4 linked regions of the Homo sapiens genome follow. The protein of the gene in region 2 purifies or fractionates together with the protein of the main gene of each other region. This does not show direct contact. Each region holds a gene or a part of one and is shown on either strand. Other genes may lie near its edges. The genes, in order: CCDC102A, KIAA1328, TRIOBP and EDEM2.

What was found.
Region 1: the proteins of KIAA1328 (region 2) and CCDC102A purify together in Homo sapiens (affinity purification with mass spectrometry; one large-scale study listed by BioGRID and IntAct). This does not show direct contact.
Region 3: the proteins of KIAA1328 (region 2) and TRIOBP purify together in Homo sapiens (affinity purification with mass spectrometry; one large-scale study listed by BioGRID and IntAct). This does not show direct contact.
Region 4: the proteins of KIAA1328 (region 2) and EDEM2 purify together in Homo sapiens (affinity purification with mass spectrometry; one large-scale study listed by BioGRID and IntAct). This does not show direct contact.

The regions. Positions count from the first base shown.
Region 1 is NC_000016.10:57,512,572-57,516,138, forward strand, and holds part of CCDC102A (coiled-coil domain-containing protein 102A), read right to left. Parts: intron 2,874-3,567; coding exon 2,770-2,873; intron 300-2,769; coding exon 170-299; 3' UTR 1-169.
Region 2 is NC_000018.10:37,217,106-37,220,672, forward strand, and holds part of KIAA1328 (protein hinderin), read left to right. Parts: intron 1-3,567. UniProt on the Homo sapiens protein: Competes with SMC1 for binding to SMC3. May affect the availability of SMC3 to engage in the formation of multimeric protein complexes.
Region 3 is NC_000022.11:37,731,543-37,735,109, reverse strand, and holds part of TRIOBP (TRIO and F-actin-binding protein), read right to left. Parts: intron 1,813-3,567; coding exon 1,698-1,812; intron 712-1,697; coding exon 1-711.
Region 4 is NC_000020.11:35,123,312-35,126,878, reverse strand, and holds part of EDEM2 (ER degradation-enhancing alpha-mannosidase-like protein 2 isoform 1 precursor), read left to right. Parts: intron 1-503; coding exon 504-628; intron 629-2,844; coding exon 2,845-2,989; intron 2,990-3,567. Other genes in the region: MMP24-AS1-EDEM2 (ER degradation-enhancing alpha-mannosidase-like protein 2), read left to right, coding at 504-628, 2,845-2,989. UniProt on the Homo sapiens protein: Involved in the endoplasmic reticulum-associated degradation (ERAD) pathway that targets misfolded glycoproteins for degradation in an N-glycan-dependent manner.

The sequences.
Region 1 (3,567 bases), on a different chromosome or scaffold from region 2:
AGGGCGTTGGTAGGTGGGACTGTTGACGCCATCCCTGGGAGAGAAGAAAGTCGGCTGTGGCAGGGACTGGTCCCAGAGTGAGCCTAGGCACTGCATCAGTTTGAGTGGCTGGTTAGCCTGGACCCTGGGCAGGTATGGGGCGGCCCATCCTGCCCAGCCACAGGAAGCTCTAGGCCACCTGGATTTGCAGGTCCTCGTCCTCGTCCAGGTCACTGGTTCCATCCTCGGCCTCCTCGGTGCCAAAGCGAGCACTGCGGATCTTCCCGAAGAGGGGAGCGTTCTGCTGCTGCCTGCGGAGCCTGTGGGGTGGGGGTGACAGGAGGTTAGAGCAGCCTGGCTGGTAGTCCCCCGATAAGGTGGCTGCAGCTGGTGCTGGAGCAGTTAAGCCTTCCCTGGTGCTTTCCCTGCTGTCTCATCTCCTGTAATCTCCTTATATGATAGAAGTGCCATTATCACCCCCATTTTACAAGCAAGGAAACCGAGGCACAGAAAGGTGAAGTCATTTGCTCAAAGTCACACAGATGGTGGGGAGTGGGGCAGAGCTCTGAACTGAAGTGGGTGGTGCCAGAGCAGCTGGGCGGTTAGAGAGGTGAAGGAGCTGGCTCAAGGTCATGCTGCAGGATTTGAACCCAAGCCTGGCTCTCAGAGCACAGGCAGCAGAGTTGGTTGGTGTGACAGTGCAGGGTGGGCTGAGCCCTCTACATTCCCAGTGTCAGTGAGAAAGGGCTCAGCCCTAGTTCTTCCTCACATTAAAATTCCTAAAGTCAAAATTTACGAGGAAAACTTTGAGTCTAAGAAGAGCTGGTGAAGGAAATGCCGATCCCTCCCCCAACCCCCCAGCAAAGTGGCCGCCCCGGCTGCATCTTACTGGAAGACATGAATTATTAACACGTAAGGGAGGGGCACAGGCGGGGGCCTCCATTACTGCACAGTGATTTAGTGAGCTGTCCCCGGAACATTAAAGCACAAAAAGTTGGAAAATAAAACGACACAGCGGTCCTGGGTGGCCCCACCCTCCCCGATGGAAGCACTTGAGAGGCCCAGCAGGGCCTGCCTGCCCACTTCTGGAGTTTATGGCTCCTGAACAATGTGACCCAGACTGCGGGAAAGCCCCAAGGCTAAGTGGTCTTTTGAAGGGTGTGTGCTGCAGGGTCAGAGCAGGCAGAGCCAGCCAGGCATGGGTCCTGACTTGGGCCCACGCCTGGGCCCCTGCACAACACTTTATGGGCGTCATCCCAGGCAGATGGGGAAATCGAGGCTCAGTTTACCATGGCACAATAGCTGTTAGGTCTCTGCAGCCCATTCTCTAAGCCACAAGATCTCAGCAAACAGCAGCATATAGTAAATGCTCAATAAATAAGGGCTTGGATGGCTGATGGCCAGGGGTGATTCTGCCTGGCCACCCACCAACTGTGTGGCCATGGAAAGACTTACCCTCTTGGGCCTTAGTTTCCTCATCTGCCAGCCCCCTAGGAAAAAACATCTTTCCTTTCTCTCATAGAAGCAGCGTGATGCTGATGCACAACATGTAACCCAAATATAAGCCCCTCCGCAGCGGTAGTAGTAACAGTAGTAATAGCAGCAGCTGCTGACAATCACTCAGCATTTATTATGTGCCAGGTGTTTTCTTTCTTTTTTTCTTAGAGACGGGATCTCACTTTGTCTCCCAGGCTGGAGTACCGTGGTGTGATCACAGCTCACTACTATAGCTATGAACTCCTGAGCTCAAGTGATCCTCCTGCCTCGGTCTCCCAAGTAGCTGGAACTACAGGCACACACCACCATGCCTGGCTAAGTTTTGTATTTTTTGTAGACATGGGGGTCTTGCTTTGTTGCCCAGGGGGTCTCAAACTCCTGGTCTCAAGCAATCCTCTTGCCCTGGCCTTCCAAACTGTTGGGATTACAGGTGTGAGCTACCATGCCTCCAGGTACTTTCTTAAGAATGGATCAGCTCATTTAATACTCACAACAATCAAGAGGTAAGAACTATCATCATCCCCATTTTACAGATGAAGAAACTGACACAGAGAGGTTAAATAAATGTCCCAAGGCCACACAGCTGCTAATGCTGAGCCAGGCTTCAGACCATTCAGGCAGTCTGGCTGCAGAACCGGGCACCCTCTATTCCACGAAAGAAGAGAATGCAACTAAGTGCATTCTCAGGGCCCGGCACAGGTCAATGCTGTGGCTCCGATGCTCCTTGGGCCTCCCAGCTGTGAAGTGGGAGGGACGTGGACTGAAGTTTTCTGATATCGCCTGGTTCTGTGATTCACAGAGTGCTGGGACAGAGACAGGGTTGGGAGAGGGAGGCAGAGTGTGCTGGGTGGGGCCTGTTGGCAGTGGACGGGATCCAGGCCTGGGGCCCCTCCACGAGTCCCTGCTCACCAGTCTCTCAGATCCCTGCTGTCTTGGTGTCACCTGGGCCCAGTAACGCTGAGGGCTGCCTATTTGAGCCCTGCTGGCCCCACCCACTGCCCCAAGCCTTGGGCCTGACCTCTCCAGCCCGCCCTTCCTGCCCTCACTCTACCCACCAGCCCTCCTGCTAGAGGAGACAATTCCAGGGCCTGCAGCTGGCCTGACTTCCTGCACCCCCTGCCCTGGTTTCCTGGCTCTGGCCCTTCCTGCCCGGAGGGGACAGGATTCTGGCTCCAGGCACCTGGATCTCTTCCTTCGTCTCCCCCTCCAGCCTTGGTTTGGGCTCCGTCCCTGACCGGAGGGTTCCCTGGCTGGAAGTCTCTGCCCTGTTTCTGTTCCCTGCCCGGGGCCCACCTGGACTGCAGGTGCTCCAGTTGCACTTGCAGGTTCTCGCTCTGCTCCGTCTGCTCGTCCAGCGACCGCTGCAGCTTACGTGCCTGGTTGTGGGCCTCGTCCAGCTGTGGGGGTGAGCAGGGCCGAAAGCACGAGGGTCACCCAGGGCTGGGCAAGGCCGGCCACCCGCCCAGGGAAAACCACTCCTGCTGTTCCCTGGGAAGGTGCTCCTCCGAGAGTGTTTGCTCCTTGAGGCCTAGGCTAAGGCTTACCTCTTCTAGAAAAGCATCCCTTTGGTTCCTCTCCATCCCCTTTGCCTCCTCTTGCACATCTACCCATCCTCCCAGGCCCTGCACTACTGATGCAGCCATCCACCTCCTATCCTTCTGTCCCCATCAGTCTGTCCATCGGACCATTCGTCCAGGGAGATATTCATCTGCCCATGGAGACAGTCACCCACCACTCCCCATCCATTAATCTAATCAGCAGCCCATCTAGCATGCCTAGCCATGCCTTCCTGCTCTCCCGGACACACCTATCTTCCCGTCAACCTGGCCTTCTTTCTCCCTCTGTATTCGTTCTTCCACCCACTGACCCAGTCAGCTGTCCATCCATCTGTCCACTCTCTACCCATCCAGCCATCATCTGTTCATACATCCATTGGATCCACCCATCCATCTGCCCGCCCTGCCTCTCTCTCCCATTCATCCATCCATTCATTCCTTTACCCATTGGTTCATCCATGCACACATCCATCTTGTCTTCTGTTCATTTTTCTTCCCATCTTCCCACCCACATGTCCATCCTGCCATCCATTCA
Region 2 (3,567 bases):
TCTTGATTCTTTATCCAATTTGCCAGTCTGTGTCTTTTAATTGGGGCATTTAGCCCATTTACATTTAAGGTTAATATTGTTATGTGTGAATTCAATCCTGTCATTATGATGTTAGCTGGTTATTTTGCTCGTAGTTGATGCAGTTTCCTCCTAGCATCGATGGTCTTTACAATTTGGCATGTTTTTGCGGTGGCTGGTACCGGTTGTTCCTTTCCATGTTTAGTGCTTCCTTCAGGAGCTCTTGTAAGGCAGGCCTGGTGGTGACAAAATCTCTCAGCATTTGCTTATCTATAAAGGATTTTATTTTGCCTTTACTAATGAAGCTTAGTTTGGCTGGATATGAAATTCTGGGTTGAAAATTCTTTTCTTTAAGAATGTTGAATATTGGCCCCCACTCTCTTCTGGCTTGTAGAGTTTCTGCCGAGAGATCAGCTGTTAGTCCAATGGGCTTCCCTTTGTGGGTAACCTGACCTTTCTCTCTGGCTGCCCTTAACATTTTTTGCTTCATTTCAACCTTGGTGAATCTGACAATTATGTGTCTTGGGGTTGCTCTTCTCAAGGAGTATCTTTGTGGTGTTCTCTGTATTTCCTGAATTTGAATGTTGGCCTGCCTTGCTAGATTGGGGAAATTCACCTGCATAATATCCTGAAGAGTGTTTTCCAGCTTGGTTCCATTCTCCCTGTCACTTTCAGGTACACCAATCAAACGTAGATTTGGTCTTTTCACATAGTCTCATATTTCTTGGAGGCTTTGTTCGTTTCTTTTTACTCTTTTTTCTCTAAACTTCTTGCTTCATTTCATTTGTTATAGCCACAGGAGTTAGAGAAAATGCCACACTTTGAGACAAATTAAGAGTCCTTTATTTAAGCCGGCGGCCAAAGAGATGGCTAATGCTCAAAATTCTCTTGGCCCCGATGAAGGGGCTTAACTTTTATACCTAGGTTTAGGAAGGGGAGGGGGACTTAAATGCAATAACTCTACAGAAGTAAAAACATGCAAGAATCAAAAGAAGCAAATGGTTACAGAGAAATGAACAATTTAAAAGACAAATGGTTACAAAAAGAGCAAGGGTACCAGGTGCAAGGCTCTAAATCCTTCATTATAGTTAGATATAAATGCTATGCCAGACAGGAACTCAAGGCTTTGTGTTGTTATCTCTTTGAGCAAAACCCTGGGAACTTCATACATTGTTTGCTCCAGTATCTTACCAGTTAATTGGGCTCCTTTGAAATGCTGAGGATCTGCTTACACAGGTTAACTCCTTAAGGAAGGGGGTTGGGTAAGGAGCCCTTAATGTCTTGTAAATCAAGAGGTCAAATGGAGTTTGTCCGGCTTTCCCAGCCAGGGAGAGTGTATTCATATGGGAAACATGGCTGGCAATTAAGGAGACAAAAAAAGGAAAATTTAAAGTAGTGAGCTAGAGTAAAAAACAAGGTTAGGCGTTACACATTCATTTGATCTTCAGTCACTGATACCCTTTCTTCCACTCGATGGAATCAGCTTCTGAAGCTTATGCATGCGTCACGTAGTTCTCCTGCCATGGTTTTCAGCTCCATCAGGTCATTTAAGGTCTTCTCTACACTGTTTATTCTAGTTAGCCATTCGTCTAATCTTTTTTCAAGGTTTTTAGCTTCCTTGAGATGGGTTCATACATCCTCCTTTAGCTTGGAGAATTTTGTTATTTCCAACCTTCTGAAGCCTACTTCTGTCAACTTGTCAAAGTTATTCTCTGTCCAGCTTTGTTCCATTGCTGGCGAGGAGCTGTGATCCTTTGGAGAAGAGGCACTCTGGTTTTTAGAATTGTCAGCTTTTCTGCTCTGGTTTCTCCCCATCTTTGTGGTTTTATCTACCTTTGATCTCTGATGATGGTGACCTACAGATGGGGTTTTGGTGTTGATGTCCTTTTTGTTGATGTTGATGCTATTCCTTTCTGTTTGTTAGTTTTCCTTCTAACAGTCAGGTGTCTCAGCTGCAGGTCTGTTAGAGTTTGCTGGAGGTCCACTCCAGACCCTGTTTGCCTGGGTGTCACCAGCAGATGGCTGCAGAACCGCAAATATTGCAGAACTGCAATATTGCTGCCTGATCCTTCCTCTGGAAGCTTCATCTCAAGGGGCACCCAGCTGTATGAGGTGTCAGTCGGCCCCTACTGGGAGGTGTCTCCCAGTTAGGCTACACAGGGGTCAGGGACCCACTTGAGGCAGTCTGTCCGTTCTCAGAGGTCAAACACCATGCTGGGAAAACCACTGCTCTCTTCAGAGCTGTCAGGGATGTTTAAGTCTGCAGAAGTTCCTGCTGCCTTCTGTTCAGCTCTGCCCTTCCCCCAGAGGTGGAGTCTACAGAGGCAGGCAGGCCTCGTTGACCTGCGGTGGGCTCCACCCAGTTTGAGCCTCCTGGCTGCTTTGTTTACCTACTGAAGCCTCAGCAATGGCAGATGCCCCTACCCCTGCCAGGCTGCTGTCTCGCGGGTCGATCTCAGACTGCTGCACTAACAGTGAGCAAGCCTCCGTGGGCATGGGACCTACTGAGCCAGGTGTGGTTTATAATCTTCTGGTGTGCCATTTGCTAAGACTGTTGGAAAAGCGCAGTGTTTGGGTGGCAGTGTCCCTATTTTCCAGGTACTGCCTGTCATGGCTTCCCTTGGCTAGGAAAGGGAAGTCCCCCGACCCCTTGCGCTTCCTGGGTGAGGTGATGCCCCACCTTGCTTCGGCTTGCCCTCTGTGGGCTGCACCCACTGTCCATCCAGTCCCAATGAGATGAACCAGGTACCTCAGCTGGAAATGCAGAAATCACCCATCTTCTTTGTCGATCACACTGGGAGCTGCAGACTGGTGCTGTTCCTATTCAGCCATCTTGGAACTGTATCCCCCAATTTTTTCTAATTTTTAATTTTGAGGAGGATCTTTCTGTTGATGCAACTGACAGTGGAGCTGCTAAGAGTATTTTGTAGGCTGTGCCAACATTTGCATAGATTTCTAATAAAGTATTTCCAAATATGAATTTTAGTTTATATAGAGGTGATTATTCTTGGGGATCAGATTTTCTAAAAAGATTTAACTCTTCATACACATTAGTTTCATACATGTTGGAATTTAATTTTAAATACAAATCTCTATGATGTCATTTTAATGTTTTCTCTAGCATGTTCTGTAACATATAAAGATCATATAAGAAACCAAAAATCACTTAATGATTTGTCTATAATTCACAGTGCTTGTTTATGCTTTCTATAGCAGCATCTTCAGTTACAAAGAAAAATTAAATTTAAAAATTGTATTCCTCATTAATAATTGGTTCATTAGAAATTGCATATGAGAATAGTGGGTTTTTTCCTATCAAATGCAACAATCTTTAATTTTTATTTCCAAACCTGTGGATGTTCGCTTTCCAGTGTTGTAGCAGTTTTTAAAACCAGAGATTCTAAACTCTTTGAAGGCTTCTAATATATCTCTGATATGCTTCATTGTAATGTCCACGTGTATGTTTTTATTTTCTAATAATTTACTGGCATTTATACTTAATGCTAGCAGTTCCTATCCCAGTTCTCAGGCCAGAAAGATGACATTTTT
Region 3 (3,567 bases), on a different chromosome or scaffold from region 2:
GGCCTGCAGGAGCTCCAAGAGGCCCTCCCAGTCCAGGCTGGGGACACGGGCCCAGACCCCCTCTCCTGGTGCCCGGAGAAGGCCAAGCAGATCCCTCCAGTCAAGCTCGGGTCGCCTCTCAGAGCCACGCGGGTATGGACACGCTCCCTCTGCCCCCCAGCCCACAGCAGTGGGTGTCCCAGAGTGCCAGGATTGTGAGGACTCTGCGGGGCCTCCCCAGTTCTCAGGGGGGCTCGTGAGTGGGCTTCTCTTTCCTAGTTCTCTGGGGAGCTCATGAGTGGGCTTCTCCTCCCAGGCCTCTGGCTGCCCCCAGCTCTCCTTGTACTCCCTGGAAGTGCCCCCCCATGCTCCCTCCGGGGCTTTGGCTGCCCCCAGGCTGGGCTCTCCACATCCCCACCAGCCCCCAGGGCCCAGGCCTCCCTCCTGGCTGCTCCAGCTCCTTTCTAGGTGTCTATGAGGGCCCTGGGACCCTGGCGGTTCCTCCTGACTCTGCCACACCCCCAGAGGCTGTCTTGGGCCTGCTTGGCCACTCTCCAGAGGTCTCTGTGTCCGCAGCTCCCTCTCAGGGGTCCTGGCTGATGTCCTGGGGGGCAGCGGGGACCCCTGGAGCTGCCGATCTCCCTCAGGTCTCTTCTCAGGACTCCAAGGATGAGGGGGCTCTGCTTGGCTCCGCCGGGTCAGTTCTGCCTGTTTGGCAGGGAGCATGGTCACCTGGGGATGAGGTGAGGGGGTAGGTGAGGCTCTCTCTCTGGGGACCTGGCTGCCAGCTCTGCCTTTCTTAGGCCCCCAGAGAGTCAAGGCTGTGTCCACACAGCAGCCTGAATCAAAGCAGGCCAAAAAGTACACAGGGTCTCTGCCCCACCCCTCCGGGGTCAGCTCCTCCCTTTCACCCGCTTTCCTCAGTTCCAGAAAAAGATCTGCAAAGACCTGCCCCCGTTCTTGGCTTCTCACCCCTCTCAAAGATACTGATTCCAACTTGGGCTATCAGGTGCCAGAACCTCCACCACCAATACCCCATTCCACTGAGGCGGGCCTAGCCCTCTGGGTTTGGTTAAAGATACAAATTACCCTGAAAGAGAGGGCCCTTAGAGCCAGATTCTTGCTTCAAGGCTTTCCCTGAAATCTGCTCAAGACAGCAGTATTGGCCAGGTGCCGTGGTTCACGCCTGTAATCCCAGCACCTTGGGAGGCCAAGGTGGGCGGATCACTTGACGTCAGGAGTGACCAGCCTGGCCAACATGGTGAAACCCTGTCTCTACTAAAAGTACGAAAATTAGTTGGGTGTGGTGGCACACGCCTGTAATCCCAGCTATTTGGGAGGCTGAGGTAGAAGAATCACTTGAACCTGGGAGGCAGAGGTTGCAGTGAGCCAATATTGTCCCACTGCACTCCAGCCTGGGAGACAGTGCAAGACTCCATCTCAAAAAAAAAAAAAAAAAAAAAAGACAGCAGTGCTTAGTAAAGGAAGGGGATAGCGTGGGAGAGGGGCTATCTTCAAAGGATTAATGTGGGGTCTTGTGCATTTTGCCAAGAGCTGCTGGCCGTTGGGGAGAGGGGAGAGCTGGATCCCCATGATTGGACTCCGACCCTTTCATAGAGGACCTTCCTGTCCAAGCCCCCTGCCTGGCTTCTAGCGGGAGGGAAGAGGCAGTGGCCGCCCCTTGGGGTGCGGGGCCCCAGACAGCTGGCAGTGCTCACCTGCCTGCTGGGGGCAGGGCTGGACTGTCTTCGGAGAAGTTGGCTCTGGCCTTGGCTGGGCTGCTGTGACCGTCCCTCGTCCTGGGCCTGGAAGGCCCCCGCTGCCTCGGACTTCCTATGAGCAAATGCAGCCACTCCTCTGAGGGACTGTCCCACTCCCAGCACCCCAGCCCCTCTGCTCCCACCTCCAACAGGAGGAGATGTGGGACAGCCAGGGACCCACTGCAAGCTCGTTGAAGGGCCCTAAGTGAGGATGACTCTCAGGGCCTTAGTTTCCCCTTCTGAAAAATGGGGATGGTTAACACTGCTCTATTCTGCCTCATGAGGCTCTTGCGAACATGACGAGAAAAGTGGGGAGTAGAGGCGGTTGGGTGGGGAGGGGGATCTGGCCCTGGCCATGGCCCTCTCCTGTCTCATCCAGTACTTCCTATGACTAACCACCACCCCACCAGCAGCCCAAGAGCCACCCCCAGACAAAGGTTAGACTGGTCTTTGCGGGAATTAAGATTTATTGAGCACCTACTGTGTACCAGGCACTGGGCACACATAATCATTATGACAAAGCATTTATTGAGTGCTTCTTATGTTCCAGGGGCCAAGCACTTGTATCATGATCGCAGCCCACGAGGTGGGACGACAGAGCCAGACTGCTGTGTGCCCCCGTGTTCCATTCTTTCTGCCTTTTCCTGTCCATATTGTAAATTTTGGATTTCTTTTCCTTTTTCCCTCCCATCACTGTTAACCAACAGAATCCCAGCGCTTAGCCTTGAAAACTCCAGGCCATCCTAGCTGTTGGCAAAAGAGCTCTGAGCAAGATCAGAAGAAAGAAACATTCTCCCTGACAACTTCAGAGAGGCCAACATAAACTGTCCAAGCAAGTGTCTTTTTTTTTTTTTTTTTTTTGAGATGGAGTCTCGCTCTGTCACCCAGGCTGGAGTGCAGTGGCGCGATCTCGGCTCACTGCAACTTCCATCTCCCGGGTTCAAGTGATTCTCTGCCTTAATCTCCCAAGTAGCTGGGATTACAGGCATGAGCCACCACGCCTGACCCTGGGCAAGTGTTGTTTCTAAGACACTGGGCTTCAGGCATTGTTGACGCATCCGATGAAGATCATCTCTAACTTGTGTAAAAAGTCTAGTTCCAGTTAGTTGTCTTGCTTACTAACTGGGAGGCATGGCTGTTAATGATTAACGTGGTATCTCTATTGACAGGTAGAAACACCAAACAGAACCTGGGCATATCTCTCCCTTCCTCTACCTAAGGGGTCACAACAAAAGGCCCAACCACTCCATGAATGTTTATTTTGGTTGGGTCTCAGTTAGCAAATGGAGCCATGTCTTTGGTCGATGAACTGAACCAGGAAGAGAAGCCTGAAAAAGGCCACCCTGTGGTGGACCCAGAGTGAGGCAGCAAAAAGGGAAGTATGAGGAAACTCTGCTCAGGCCTCCATAGGCCCTGCTGTCTGTGGTGGGCCTGTGCCTGAGGAGCCATGCTGGAACGACACCTTCAAAAGTATGGGATTGGGCAGGGCGCAATGGGTCACGCCTGTAATCCCAGAACTTTGGGAGGCTGAGGCAGGCGGATGGCTTGAGCTCAGGAGTTCAAGACCAGCCTAGACAACATAGTGAAACCTAGTCTCTAAAAATACAAAAATTAGCCCAGGTGTGGTGGCTCATGCCTCTAATCACAGCACTTTGGGAGGCTGAGGTGGGTGGATCACTTGAGGTCAGGAGTTCGAGACCAGCCTGGTCAACATAGTGAAACCCAATCTCTACTAAAAATACAAAACTTAGCCAGGCGTGGTGGCACGTGCCTGTAATCCCAGCTACTCAGGAGGCTGAGGCAGGAGGATCGCTTGACCCCAGGAGGT
Region 4 (3,567 bases), on a different chromosome or scaffold from region 2:
GTGCAATGGTGCGATCTCAGCTCACAGCAACCTCCGCCTCCTGGGTTCAAGCAATTCTCCTTCCTCAGCCTCCCAAGTAGCTGAGATTACAGGCATGCACCACCACACCTGGCTAATTTTGTATTTTTAGTAGAGACAGGGTTTCTCCGTGTTGGTCAGGCTGGTCTCGAACTCCCAATCTCAGGTGATCCGCCCACCTCGGCCTCCCAAAGTGCTGGGATTATAGATGTGAGCCACCACGCCTGGCCTCCCCATTTTATAGATCATAAGGCTGAGGCTTAAAAGGGAAAAACCCACCCCAGGTCACGGTTAGCAAGTGGTAGAGCTGGAGCTGGAATTTGAGCTGGAAGTTTGACTCCAGAATCCATGCTCTTGTCTAGCCTCCTTGCCTCATTGCATCCTGGTGCTCTTTCCAAAGTGTAAGTTCTCGCTTCCGCTGTCCAGGCCTGCCTTTTTTCTCCCTAATCACTCATATGTCCATTATCCCATCTCCCCCACTGCAGAGTATAACAAAGCCATCCGGAACTACACCCGCTTCGATGACTGGTACCTGTGGGTTCAGATGTACAAGGGGACTGTGTCCATGCCAGTCTTCCAGTCCTTGGAGGCCTACTGGCCTGGTCTTCAGGTAGGAATGATCAAAGAATGTGATCATCTTTCTATGAGTCTGGCAAAGCAAGCTCATTCTGATGTATAAGTCAAATAATGTACTTTGTTAATTGCTTGAGTACTTTTTTTGGAGGGACAGGTTGAGGATGGAAGAGAGACCTAGAGTGAATTAGATAGATTTAGAGTTCTGCCAAATTGAGTGTCAGGAACTGAGCTTCCAGTTTGCCATGGAGTGTTACAGTACTTAAAGTCGACAGTGCATTTCCAGTCTGGGCAGGAATGGCCATTGGCAACAGGTGTTTCTCCACTGGGCGTTTCTGTCCAATCTCATTCTTGACAGTGGGCCTCAGGAAGGGCAGGAAGCAGCTTGTGCCGCTGTGCCATCTCGTTGTTTTTCCATTACATGGTCTGGTAGAGTTGCAGCTGGAAGGATCTTAGAGCTTATCTAATCTACCCCACTTTGGTGTTCCAAAATAGTGCATGTACCAAAATGTTTTTATAATCTACGTTTTTAAAAGTTTTAAGAAAAAGTAGTCCCACCTGGGCAACATAGTGAGACCTCATCTCTACAAAAAATAAAAAATTAGGTCGGGCGCGGTGGCTCAGGCCTATAATCCCAGCGCTTTGGCAGGCCGAGGCAGGCGGATCACAAGGTTAGGAGATTGAGACCATCCTGGCTAACACGGTGAAACCCCATCTCTACTAAAAATACAAAAAATTAGCTGGGCGTGGTGGTGGGCGCCTGTAGTCCCAGCTACTCGGGAGGCTGAGGCAGGAGAATGGCATGAACCTGGGAGGCGGAGCTTGCAGTGAGCTGAGATTGCGCCACTGCACTCCAGCCTGGATGACAGAGCAAGACTCCGTCTCAAAAAAATAAAAATAAATAAATAAAAATAAAAATAAAAAATTAGCCTAGGGTGGTGGCACATGCCTGTAGTCCCAGCTACTCAGGAGACTGCAGTGGAAGGATTGCTTGAACCCAGAAGATCAAGGCTGCAGTGAGCCATGATCATGCCATTGCAGCCTGGGTGACAGAGTGAGACCCTGTCTCAAAAAAAAAAAAAAAAAGTGGCCACCGGGTTTCTATCCAGAATAACCAGGTAGACATTGTGTCATTTACCAAGAAGGGAAAAAGGCCAAAGTAGGGAGGCAATTTCGTGGGAAAGTAAGGGAACCAAGAATTTTGTTTAGGAAGTGCCAAGTTTGTTCTGTCCATGAGACATCCAATGAAGATGTCAGGGTCAGCTGCTTCCCTGTGAGATTACATTAATAGTAATGGCTACTTAGCAATAGTGGTAAAATTATAAATGCATATATCCTTTGACCCAGTGATCCTAATTCTGAAAATGTATCTTACACATAACATTTTACATCTATTTGATGTGACATATATACAGAATTATTTATTGCCACATTAGTTGTTGGAACCAATTCAAATAAAAATATCTGAAAGCCAAATTTCCATATCTAAAAATATGGAGATAATTAATATCCCTATTAATAAAGAACCAAAGGCTATTTTTTAGTGTGGGGAAAATAACATATACTCATGCATAAAGAAACTCTGAAAGGTTATACAAGAAACCAGTAATGTTTATCTGAGGCCAGGCAAGATGGGTGATGGTTGTAATCCCAGCACTTTGGAAGGCTGAGGTAGGAGGATCACTTGAGCCCAGGAGATTAAGACCAGCCTGGGCAACAAAGTGAGACCCCCATCTCTACAGAAAATAAAAAAATTAGCACTGGGAGGCTGAGGTGAGAGGATCTCTTGAGCCCAGGAGGTCAAGGCTGTAATGAACCGTGATTGTGCCACTGCACTCCAGCCTAGGTGACAGAGCGAGACCCTGTCTCAAAAACAAAAACAAAAATGGTTATCTTTTGGGGGTGTGGTGTGGGAGTGAGCCTTAGCACAAACTTTTCTCTATTCTTAGAATTTTTAACTGGCTGGCCGAATTCCAAAACTGTTAGCTGACATTGACTCTGAAGATTTAGGGACTTAATATACAATCTTTGTTCCTTCCAACAATGCATGAGATAGGTGGTGTATTTTACGTTTTATAGATGGGGCTCAGAGAAGTCCAGTGCCTGGCTCAGCACCACACTGAGTAACTGGCAGACTCAGGGATTGATTCAAGGCCTTTTTGGCCCCACAGATTTTACTTTGTCTTTTCTTAAGGTTGTCTGTGGGGTTTTATGCCTGGTGTCTACCTGCCTGACAGCCACTTTCTCCCACAGAGCCTCATTGGAGACATTGACAATGCCATGAGGACCTTCCTCAACTACTACACTGTATGGAAGCAGTTTGGGGGGCTCCCGGAATTCTACAACATTCCTCAGGGATACACAGTGGAGAAGCGAGAGGGCTACCCACTTCGGCCAGGTGAGCAGCATTTCTGGCTTGTCATCTGCCCACAGGCTCTGGTTGCTGAAACCCCAAATCCCCTCTACAAGGCTCCATCCTCCACAACTGCCCACAAGTTCATTTCTTTCCATCTGTTCCTTTCAGTGGCTCTGGGTGGTTTTCTTACTAGGAGTTAATTATCCCCATGTTTTCAGATATGGAAACTGAGGCCTAGTGGGATGAAATGGCTCGCCTCTGGCTCTTAAGTGCAGGAGCTAGGCCTGGAACCCAGGGCTCCTAACTAAATTGCATGCTCTTTTTTATTTTTATTTTTTTGAGATGGAGTTTCGCTATTGTTGCCCAGACTGAAGTGCAATGGTGTGATCTCGGCTCACCGCAACCTCCGCCTCCTGGGTTCAAGCGATTCTCCTGCCTCAGCCTCCCGAGTAGCTGGGATTACAGGCATGAGCCACCATGCCCAGCTAATTTTGTATTTTTAGTAGAGATGGAGTTTCTCCATGTTGGTCAGGCTGGTCTTGAACTCCCAGCCTCAGGTGATCCGCCCACCTTGGCCTCCCAAAGTGCTGGGATTACAGATGTGAGCCACTGCGACTGGC